2 separate regions of the Homo sapiens genome follow, and region 1 is linked to region 2. The links come from fine-mapping of genetic effects on gene expression. Tissue or cell type: gastroesophageal junction. Region 2 holds a variant in brackets; the other region holds the start of a gene. All regions are shown on one strand. Distances are between the middles of the regions.

What was found.
Region 1: LEPROTL1 starts here. The variant in region 2 is fine-mapped to the expression of LEPROTL1 in gastroesophageal junction (GTEx, PIP 0.96).

Annotation. Positions count from the first base shown.
Region 1 is chr8:30,093,024-30,098,406 of GRCh38, forward strand. It overlaps LEPROTL1 (leptin receptor overlapping transcript like 1), which reads left to right and starts at 2,385. Exons shown (of 4, transcript NM_015344.3): 1 at 2,385-2,505. The coding sequence starts at 2,490. RefSeq lists an enhancer at 1-117 and a silencer at 2,233-2,692.
Region 2 is chr8:30,122,693-30,128,075 of GRCh38, forward strand. It overlaps a transcript of LEPROTL1 not described here. Among named protein-coding and RNA genes, the nearest start is that of MBOAT4, 19 kb to the right of the region's middle. The variant T/C (reference allele first, on the strand shown) is at 2,310.

The DNA.
Region 1 (5,383 bases), 30 kb before region 2:
ACAAAAAGTGGAACTTTATGTTATCTTTACAAAGGGAACTTAAGCACGGCCTTTGGGTAGAAAAGGAGAGAGCAGAGAGCTCCTCCTATGCCTGTTGCTTCTTATTTGCTTTCAGCTCAAAACAATCCTTAGCCTTATTTTCACTCGTGTCCGTGTGAAGAGACCATCAAACAGGCTTTGTGTGAGCAACAAGGCTGGTTATTTCCCCTGGGTGCAGGTGGGCTGAGTCCGAAAAGAGAGTCAGCGAAGGGAGATAGGGGTGGGGCCATTTTATAGGATTTGGGTAGGTAAAGTAAAATTACAGTCAAAGGGGGTTGTTCTCTGGCAGGCAGGGGCTGGGGTCACCAGGTGCTCAGTGAGGAAGCTTTTGAGCCAGCATGAGCCAGGAGAAGGAATTTCACAAGGTAATGTCATCAGTTAAGGCAGGAACCGGCCATCTGGATGTGTACGTGCAGGTCACAGGGGATATGATGGCTTAGCTTGGGCTCAGAGGCCTGACATTTATTTGTTTGTTTGGAGACAGAGTCTTGCTTTGTTGCCCAGGCAGTGGCACAATCAGAGCTCACTGCAGCCTCGACCTCCTAGGCTCAAGCAATCCTCCTACTTCAGCCTCCCAAGTAGCTGGAACTACAGGCACACACCAAGCCTGGCTAATTTTTTTTTCGTTTTTGTAGAGATGGAGTCTCACTATGTTGCCAGGGCTGGTCTTCAACTCCTGGGCCAAAGCGATCCTCCTGTCTTAGCCTCCCAATGTGCTGGGATCACATGCCTGAGTCACCACACCAGACTTCAAAGTGGCATATTTTAGAGTGACATATTCTGATCCCCTTTACTAGCAATTATCATTATTGCAATTTTACATTTTTTGTGTGTCTGTCTTCCTCACCAGTCTGCAAACAGTACCTGGTTTTGCACATCTCAGCGTCTAACCCTGTGCCTAACACATAGTAAATGTTCTATAAATAATTGTAGGATGTGTAAATAAAGGTGTTGAACCTGGGCTTTCACTTTTTTTTCCTTGCCTTGTTACTACCAAAAAGACAGCCACCCAAGGGACTGGATTTCTATTAAATCCACCCTTTACTGAGCCCTGCTGCTCCTATCTCTGGAGGTGGGTCCTCACCAGAACCCTAGTCCTGTATAGGAAACCAAGGAGCCAAGTGCAGACCACCCAACTAACCTTAATTATAGGACTGGGGATGGAGGGATGGAGGGAGAGAGGAAAAGGCGCAGTAAAATAATGTGCGCAGTGGCTCACACCTGTTGTCGTAACCGAGCGAGTTATAGAGAAACACCACACTTTGAGACTAATTCAGGAGTCCTTTATTGCCGGCGACCGAGAGACGACTACAGCTCAAAATTCTCTCGGCCCTGAAGAAGGGGCTAGATTTCTTTTTATACCTTGGTCTAAATAGGGAAGGGGTAGTCTAGCTGAAGCAATTTTTACAGAAGCAGAACAGGCAAAGAGTTAAAAGATAAATGGTTATAGAAACAGTTACAGGAAAATAAACAGTTCCAGGTGCATGGGGCTTAAATTATCACAAAGAGATAAACGCAGGGGCTTTGGGTACCATCAACCGAGCGCGTTCCCAGGAGCTGCTGGTACAGCTTGCCTCAGTATCTTATCAGTAAGCACATTCCTGGATGTGCTTGGTGTCAGTCTGCACCAGTTATGTCCTTAAGGGAGGGGGACAAGGTGCTGCAAGCGAAGAAACCAAAATGGAGTCTGTCCCGCTCTCTCAGCTAAGAGCGAGTCAATCAGGTTAAAACAAGGTAGGGTATCAAGCTGTAATCCCAGCGCTTTGGGAGGCCGAGGAGGGCAGATCCTTGAGCTCAGGAGACCAGCTTGGGCAACAAGATGAGAGTCTCACACCCCGCCCTGTCTCTACAAAAAACAAAACAAAACAAAACAAAAAAAAGCCAGGCATGGTGGCTCATGTCTGTGGTCCCAGTTACTGCGAGGCCGACGTGAGAGAATCACTTGAGCCCTGGAGATCGAGGCTGCAGTAGCCGTGATCACACTCCAGCCTGGGCGAAAGAGACCCTGTCTCAAAAAACAAACAAAACAATGTGAAATTAAGCCAAAAGCCATCACACGTGCATCCAAAGGACGGCCGCTACCCGCGACCCCTTCCCAACGCACGCGGGAGGTTGCGGGATCAGGGACAGGGGCTTCAGCAGGGAGCCCCCAGACCGGCCCTGACAGGAATTCAAGACCTGGCGCCTGCTCATTCCCCCAGTCGGGGCGGCGGCGGCAAGCCTCGGCCGGCGGCGATCTGCACACCCGCGGAGAAGAGAGGCAGGGGGTCGACCCCACAGCCCAGCCCGGCGCGTCCCCCGCGCCCCCGCGCGAGCCCGAGTCGCCGGCGGAAGTGCTGCGTCGCGCACTTCCGGGTGTTGTCTGGCCGCCGTAGCGCGTCTTGGGTCTCCCGGCTGCCGCTGCTGCCGCCGCCGCCTCGGGTCGTGGAGCCAGGAGCGACGTCACCGCCATGGCAGGCATCAAAGGTGGGCCTGGGTTGCAGGACGCGGGAGGGCTGGGGCCGGCGGGGGAAGATGGGCCGGGGGTCCCACGCGGCCCCCGCACTTCCCCTCCGGGCTCGCGCGCGCGCGTGGGGTCCCTGCGCCGGGGAAGCGACCCCCGCCCCGGCCCTGCGCTTGGCCCGGAGGTGGGCGCGGCGCCCTCGGGCAACGGACGGTTGCGACCCCGGCTTCGCCCCGCAGCCCCCACTTTCTGCCGATTTCGGCAGCCTCTCTCCCACCCATCGCCCCCCGGACAAAATATGAAGTGGTTGGCGGTCAGTGAGGAGTCCCGTCGCGACTTGGACGGCCACACACGTTTTGCAGGAGTTTGCATCCGAGAGAGAGGCAGGCAGAGCGTGGGATTGAGAAGGCTGAGGCTGCTAGAGATGCCAGCTATGGAAAACCAGTCATTTCCCACCGAAAGGCACAAGTGCGGTCTGCGGGCGCTGCACGGGTCTGCCCGAAACCTCGACCCCACGTCCACCCCGGCCGCCCGCGCCCGAGGCTTTACAGGCTCCCGAAACGGGTGCATTTTCATCTGCGGTGTCTGGACCCTAGAGTTGATCCTGTAGGCGACCCCAAAGTGCTCCTGGCTCTCTTCCCTCTCCGCAGTTGCACCCTGAGGCTTTTTCAAATTTCAAAATTTTTCTTTTTTTCCTTTTTTTTTTTTAAGAAGATAAAATACTGGTACAACTTAATGAAAAACTACTGGCTTATTCATGTATTTTCTTTTAAAAAAAGGAATGTTGCATTTGTTCCACCTGTTAGGTAGTTTTGTTGTCAGTGTGATGAGAAGCAAAGTTTTCAGCTACTGCTTAACTAATTACATTGATTTCTTGACCTGCCGCTCTGTAGAAGGGCAGTCAGGCAGGAAGCAGGTAACTTTGGGAGCAGTGGTTTTCTTTGTATTTTTTCTTCTCTAAGGAAAACTTAATCGAGTTTTTTTTCAGGGTCACAGTCTTACTGTTTCTTGTTTATTTTCAATGTCTGAAAACATTTCATTTCCCATATAAAACCTTGTCATTTAAGCAACTGGGATACTTTGTAATCTCCTTTTGAACTATGATAGACTCTAAACCCTTATGTGAAAGGCAGTTATTGTGAATTGCTGTGGTTTTTAGGATGTTGCCCGTTTCCCTGTTCTTCCCTGTTTCTTCAGTGTCAATAATGCGGGGGTCTCTTAAGAAAATAGCTTTGTAATTTACTTCTCCAGACCTAGGGAAATACTGCATTAAACTGATGAAGGTGCCTCAGGTGAACTGCACTTTTGATTTCAGCAGGATTTTCTGGTTGTTATGAGTCAGTATGTTTCTTTCTCTTGGCCTAATATCTTTATATTAGGAAGGAGTGTTGCTGTAATTAGAGACCATTAGGCATTGCTTGAGCCATTTGTCTATTACTTTTTGATATATTGGATTTTCTGGTAACTCCCAGGTTAGAGAAGTGGTCCCTCCTTCTACTCTAATTTCTTTGTAATCACAGAATCAGCATCTTGTCTCTAGAGAGTTTTGCTAGATAATTGGGCTGCTCCATGCCTAGCCTAGAGGCTTTGGGAGTAGAACCCAGACTTATCTAAGCTTTGTCTTCCAAATGTTGCATCACTCAATTACTGTATGAATTCTTGCCTTGTTGATGTGTCATTTAAGAAACAGCTTATATACAAATGATGAAGTGTATATATAAATCTTCCTAGTTGCCAATTTCATAAGATTGAAGAAACTGCAAGTTTTGAGAACACTTTTAAGCAATTTATTTAACCTCTAATTGGCTACCTTATTCGGTATGACTGGAAGATGAGATGTCACATCAAACTGTGTTATGAATATTTAAAAAAAATTTAGTATTTAATCCTGGCGCGGTGGCTCACACCTGTAATCCCAGCACTTTGGGAGGCCGAGACGGATGGATCATGAGGTCAGGAGTTCAAGACCAACCTGTCCAAGATGGTGAAACCCCATCTCTACTAAAAATACAAAAAAATTAGCTGGGCATGGTGGCAGGCACCTGTAATCCCAGCTACTCAGGAGGCTGAGGCAGGGAATTGCTTGAACCCGGGAGGCAGAGGTTGCAGTGAGCCAAGATTACGCCACTGCACTCCAGCCTGGGCAACAGAGTGAGACTCTGTCTCAAAAAAAAAAAAAATATATATATATATACACACACACACACACACACACACACACATATTTAGTATTTAATGGAGTAGAAGTATTATCTCAAGGTATCTTGATTCCCCCAAACAAATGTTATTCCAGTATTCATATTCATAGCACTTACAATAAGACAATCTTGGTTTATGTTTTTAAAATTGTTTTTTGATACCTGAGCCTTATCTCATTTTAGTCCCTTGGTTTTTTTTTTTTTTTAAGGAATCATTTTTCATTAACTTTGTAAGAGTGTAATCAAAGAATTTAGGCCTTCTTTTTTGATAAAAACTTGAATGACTGTTCTCTGTCACAGAACAGCCACCTTCAGAGGCCCTCATGGTCCTAAGGTGGCTTGCCTCTTGCGGAGATTACCGTGAACATGCTTTTTGAGATTTTTCTGCCTGGTTTAAATTTTTTTTGTTGTTTCCTCCCTCCTGTCAAAGGGCAATTCTTGCTTGTATGCAACTCTTTCTCCTAATTCCCATTTGTTTCAGTGTGGGAAGATAAACTTAGAAAATTTTGTGTCACAAGGTATATAGGTAATAGTGATTACTTTTGATAAGAGAAAGTTCCTTTTCACTTAATTTTTGTTCTGGGTATATGAATTACCTATTGAAAAATATATATAAGTGAGCATAGATGATTCTTTAAAATAAAAATGTGTTTTACTCTGAATTCCCATCTAACAATTGTGTCACGAAAATGAGTTAGTATAA
Region 2 (5,383 bases):
ACTGCGGCAGGAGAATCCCTTGAACCTAGGAGGTGGAGGTTGCAGTGAGCTGAGATCGCGCCACTGCACTGCAGCATGGGCAACAATGCAAGACTCTCTCCCAAAAAAACTTTTGGGAGTTTAATTGGGATTGCATTGAAGCTATAGATCAATTTGGGGAGAATGAATCTTAACAATTGTAACAGTTACCTATTGCAGCATAGCAAACCACCCAAAACCTATTGACTTAAACCAATAATCATTGGTTCAGCTCACAAATCTGTAATTTGGTCCTGTCTTAACAGTACGTGTTTGTCTGCTCCACATGGTGTCAGCTGGGGGTTGGTGGATCATCTCCCAAGATGGTTCACTTACATAGCTGGCAATTGGTGCTGGATGTCTAAATGGGAGCTCAGCTAGTATGAAGGCCAGGGGTCTCTGCTCCTCTCCATATAAAACTCTGCCTCTCCATGGCAATGTGGCTTTCTTACATCCATTCCAAGAGTGTGAATCATCCCAAGAAAACCAGTCAGAAGTGTATGGATATTTTATGACCTACCTTAGAAGTCACGAAGCATCACTTCTGCCATACTCTAGTGGTCAACCCAGTTGTGTAAATGTCCCCCCAGGTTCAAGGGGAATGACCGTAGACCATTCAATGGGAAGAGTGTTAATGTTACATTGTAAGAAAAGCATATGGGAGGGAATATATTATGGTGTCCATCTTTGGAAAATGCAATCTGCCACAACAATATTGAGTATTTCAATCAATGAACATGATATATCTCTCAATTTATTGAGGTTTGCAACATCTCTCAGCAGTGTTTCATAGTTTTCCAAGTACAAGTCTTGCAGTCATTTTACTACATTTATTCCTAAATATGTCAGGTTTTCTCATGTCATACTAGCATTCCTCTGTTTCGCTCCGTCTCTCTCTCACTCACACACACATACATATACACACATACAAACCTCAAGTATGAAGTATGTTTGCATGGTTCCCATGTCTATACTTATTCCTGCTTAGGAAGCTCTATCCAGACCTATCATTTATTCATTTAGTCAAACAATAAATAACATAATTTCAATCAATGAAAAGTAAATGAACCAAATAGAGCAGAGTGAGGAGATGGGAATGATGGCATGGGAATGGGATTTATTTTAGACAAGGTGTTCCTCTCTGGCAAGATGTCATTTGAACAGAGACATGAATGATGTAAAGGAGCAGCATCTCTATCCACAGAGACCTGGGTAAGAACATTCTGGATAGAAGGACAAGCAATTTCAAAGGCTCAAAGGGAGGAATAGGCTTTTTTTTTTTTTTTCCAGAAGATAGCAAGGCCATTGTACCTGGAGTGCAGTGAAGAAGAAACTACCAAAACACAAAGTTGGTGAGATTGTTAGTCTTATACTAACTGTCTTTTATAACCTAATCTCAGAGGTGACATACCATCACTTCTGTCATGTAATATTCATCACACAGACCAACCTTGATTCAATGTGGGATGAAGAAAATGCCAGAAGAGGGGATGGGTCACTGGGGCCACAATGATTTTTTGCAGTTTTTGATCTTTTCATTAGGAATTGGGGAATGGAAATTCCTGTATCTGACTTCCTTCTTCCTTATCTACCCAGTAGTCTCTTGCACACTTGTTTTCATATAAATTTTCAAACCTATAAAAAATAGAATATATTGAACTCCCAATCAACCAGTTTCAACAATTCTGAACACATGGCTGTTCTGTTTCGTCCATGTATTCTCCATTCTCTCTAACTCAGATTATTTTAAAGCAATCCAAGATTAAATATCATTTAATCTGTGAATATCTCTAAAATGTGACCCTTCCTTATTCTTAAGAAAAACCACAGTATGATTATTACACCTGAAAAAGTTAACAATAAAGCTTTACTATCCAATTAGTGTTTAAATTTCCCTATAATATTCTTTCAAAGTCGGTTCATTTGAATCAAGATCTAAACAAAGTCCATATATAGTTCATAAATGTAGTTTATTATATAGTTATGTAAATAACTATATAAACAGAAAAAAGTATAAAAATAAAATGTACTTAGGGTCAGCTGCATATTTAAGAAATAGGGAGGAAATTACCTTTGCTCTTCTCTTCAATCCTAAACAACATGTTCCCTTGAATTCAGGTCATTACCATGAGTGTCATCCATTAGGAGTTAACATAATGTTCTTTCTACAGGGAAATGTCATCTAACCTCTAAACAAACAATTTAGAAGCAAAGTTGTGGAAAGCATTCCTTTAGTAAATTGAGAATGCTAGAAAACATCACCTCACATGTCCTCAGGCTAATGAATCCAC[T/C]TAAGGCACTCGATGTAACATATCCAGATTGGCCATGAAACTAAACCAAAGTATCACTTGAATCTTATGAACTGCACAAATTCCCTGCAAGGAAAACATACGTACATAATTATCTCACTTGTTGTAACTTAAAAGGTGTTTCTGAAGAAAAAGGTGCAGCAAGAACCAAGTAAGACAAAAATACTTCCTTAGAAATAATCTGGCATCTCTAGCTGTTGTTATGATTGTCCCTGGAAACGAGCCAGAACAGATTAATAAGTATCTGACTGTTATGAGCTGCCAAATAAAGGCTAAGAAATTAAACCTACGATTCAGAAAAGAAAGAGTCAGAGAAGTTAACAGTGTTTTCTTAGTAGGAGAGAACTATTGTCAACTCTCAGTTTTTTGATGAGCCACAAAAATATCACTTTGTTCTTTTTATACAATAGAAAACAAATGGAAGGAATATAATAGGAAATGCCGGGTGTTTATAAAGAACCTTGAGCACTCAGCAGATTTTCTTCCATTGCTTTCTATAAAATTCTTGTTGGATGAATAGAGGCAGATTGGGAGATGGATGCCTTACTTTTTCTGCTTAATGTGTTGAAAAATTAATAGAACACTTATACAATCATAATGCCTTCAGTTTTAAAATTAAATACTCTAAAAGGAATATTTTATCCACATCCTGTTATGGCGTACTAGGAAACTTGGGGCCCAGATGGAATTGCTTGGGTCCCACAGTTGGCCTGTGCTAGAACTGGGACAGGGCCAGAACTCCTGCCTCCAGGAGAGGGGTTCAGACTGCTTCCCCATGAGATGGCTTTGCTAACATCCGAATCAGCCATTATCAGGAAGAAAATGCTAAAGTAGTCACGGCCATTTTACTCTATAATTTCCTTTGAAATGTTTCGGAAATAGATGCATTTAGACATTTGGAAAAAGCTCACATAAAATATAATCACTATCCCTTCACCTGTTAGTACTGAACTCTTAGACTATGGAGAATCAAGTTTCCTGAACCATCTCCTATGTTATAAATCTGTGAAGAATCTGTTGTAAGTGATTTGAATGTACTATCTAATAGTTGGCATTCTAATCAGGATAATTACTAATGATTGCAATTGGTCATTGCAATGCCCATAATCTATCTATAATCTTGCCTGCCACTCACCTCCTGTTGTGTGGCTCAGTTCCTAACAGGCTGTGGATCAGCACTGGGAGTCAGAGACCCCTAGATTATACCGTATAGCCTAGGTATGTAGTAGGCTAGACCATCCAGCTTTGTGTAAGGCCACTCTATGATGTTCATACAATGACAAAATAGCCTAACAATGCATCTTTCAGAATGTGTCCCCATATTAAGTGACACATGACTGTACCTTCCATTAGGCCCCATCTCCCAACACTGCTGCACGGGGGATTAAGTTTCTAACATTTGAACTTTAGGAGACACGTTCAAACCATACCAACCTCCTTTTCCAAGTCCTCATGGAATTGATGAATCCAGTATAGATGAATCAACAGACTGAATGTGTATCAGTGAAGCCTTCCTGTGGTTTGCTTTATGAAACTACATAGATAGAAAAAGGCCAAGGTTGGATTGTCTCCTATGGAAAAGTTTAACTACTTGAGTGGATTGCTAAACCTGGGACATACATTAAAGCCACTGGCTGCCTGTTGATCATGACAACTGTCTACAGATTAAGAAGGAGGCCAGCCCAGCTTAGTAGCTGCTATGATTCAGAAGGATGGGGCTGCACTATGAGGGTAGTATATTCAGAATAATATGTTGACAGGCCAGACCAGCACTATGGGAGGCTGAGGCGGGAGGATCACTTGAGGCCAGAAGTTCAAGACCATCCTGGCCATCATGGCAAATCCCCATCTGTACTAAAAATACAAAAAAATTAGCTGGATATGGTGGCACACGCCTGTAATCCGAGCTACTTTGGAATCTGAGGCATGAGAATCGCTTGAACCCAGGAGGCGGAGGTTGCAGTGAGCCAACATGGCACCACTGCACTCCAGCCTGGGTGACAGAGTGAGACTGTGTCTGAAAAAAAAAAAAGAAAATACAAAATAATATGCTGACAGATGACCTGAGTTCTCATGACACTTCCTAGGTGATGATGCCATTTCAATCTATAAATAATGAAGGCTATAGTTTCTTGCTGCTCTTAGAAAGGCTAATGCTATAGCTTTCTGCTAAACATTTTCTTATTAACCTTTGCCAGCATCCTGAGCTTGATGGTTTTCATGGCTTAGCTTACCCTCCTCTTAGGGATTTCTTAATCACCAAACTCTCAGACACTATTTTCAAACAAATGAATGAGATCCCCTGGGGACCTGAAAGAGCTGCCAGACCTCTCAGAGTGATTCGGCTGATGAAAGTGGGAGGCCAGAGGTCAGGAGGTGTGTGCCCAATGGGCGCTGTTTCCATGGGTTACTGAGCTCTAGTACTTGGTCCACAGAATTGAGTTCACTTGTCCAAGGCTACTGCCTGCAAGACAGAGACAGCTGGCCCCATCCTTGCATTTGTAAGGATAGGCACGATTCATCAAAATACTATTCTATACTTGGGAGGCAGACGTGGGAGGATCGCTTGAGCCCAGGAGTTCAATGCTGAAGTGAGCTATGATTGTGCCACTGCATGCCAGCCTAGGTGACAGAGTGAGACCCTGTCTCAAAAAAAAAAAAAAAATACACACACACACACACACACGTATATGTATTCTGCTTGGGCCAATAAATGGGCCAGAACAAGACAAAAAGCAGGGGTAACCTGAGGGTTACTTCTAGATCAAGCAAGAGAAGGAAAACATCAAATCCAGATCTGGAAGTGAGGTCAGAGAACATTAATGAGAGGATATTCCAGAAGGTTAGTGATTGAATTTTTTAAAAAGAGCGGGTGGGGTGTCAATAACCAGGTACTACCAGTCATGTAGCAAAGGGAATTCAGGAGCAATGGGCAGAGTCTTGGAAGTAATAGAGTGGGTAATGAAGGATAGGGAAACTGTTGCCAAATGGGAGGGAGCAGCGGGGGCAGGAGTTGGGAAGTGAATGAGTTAAGATCTAACAAAAAAATCAGAACT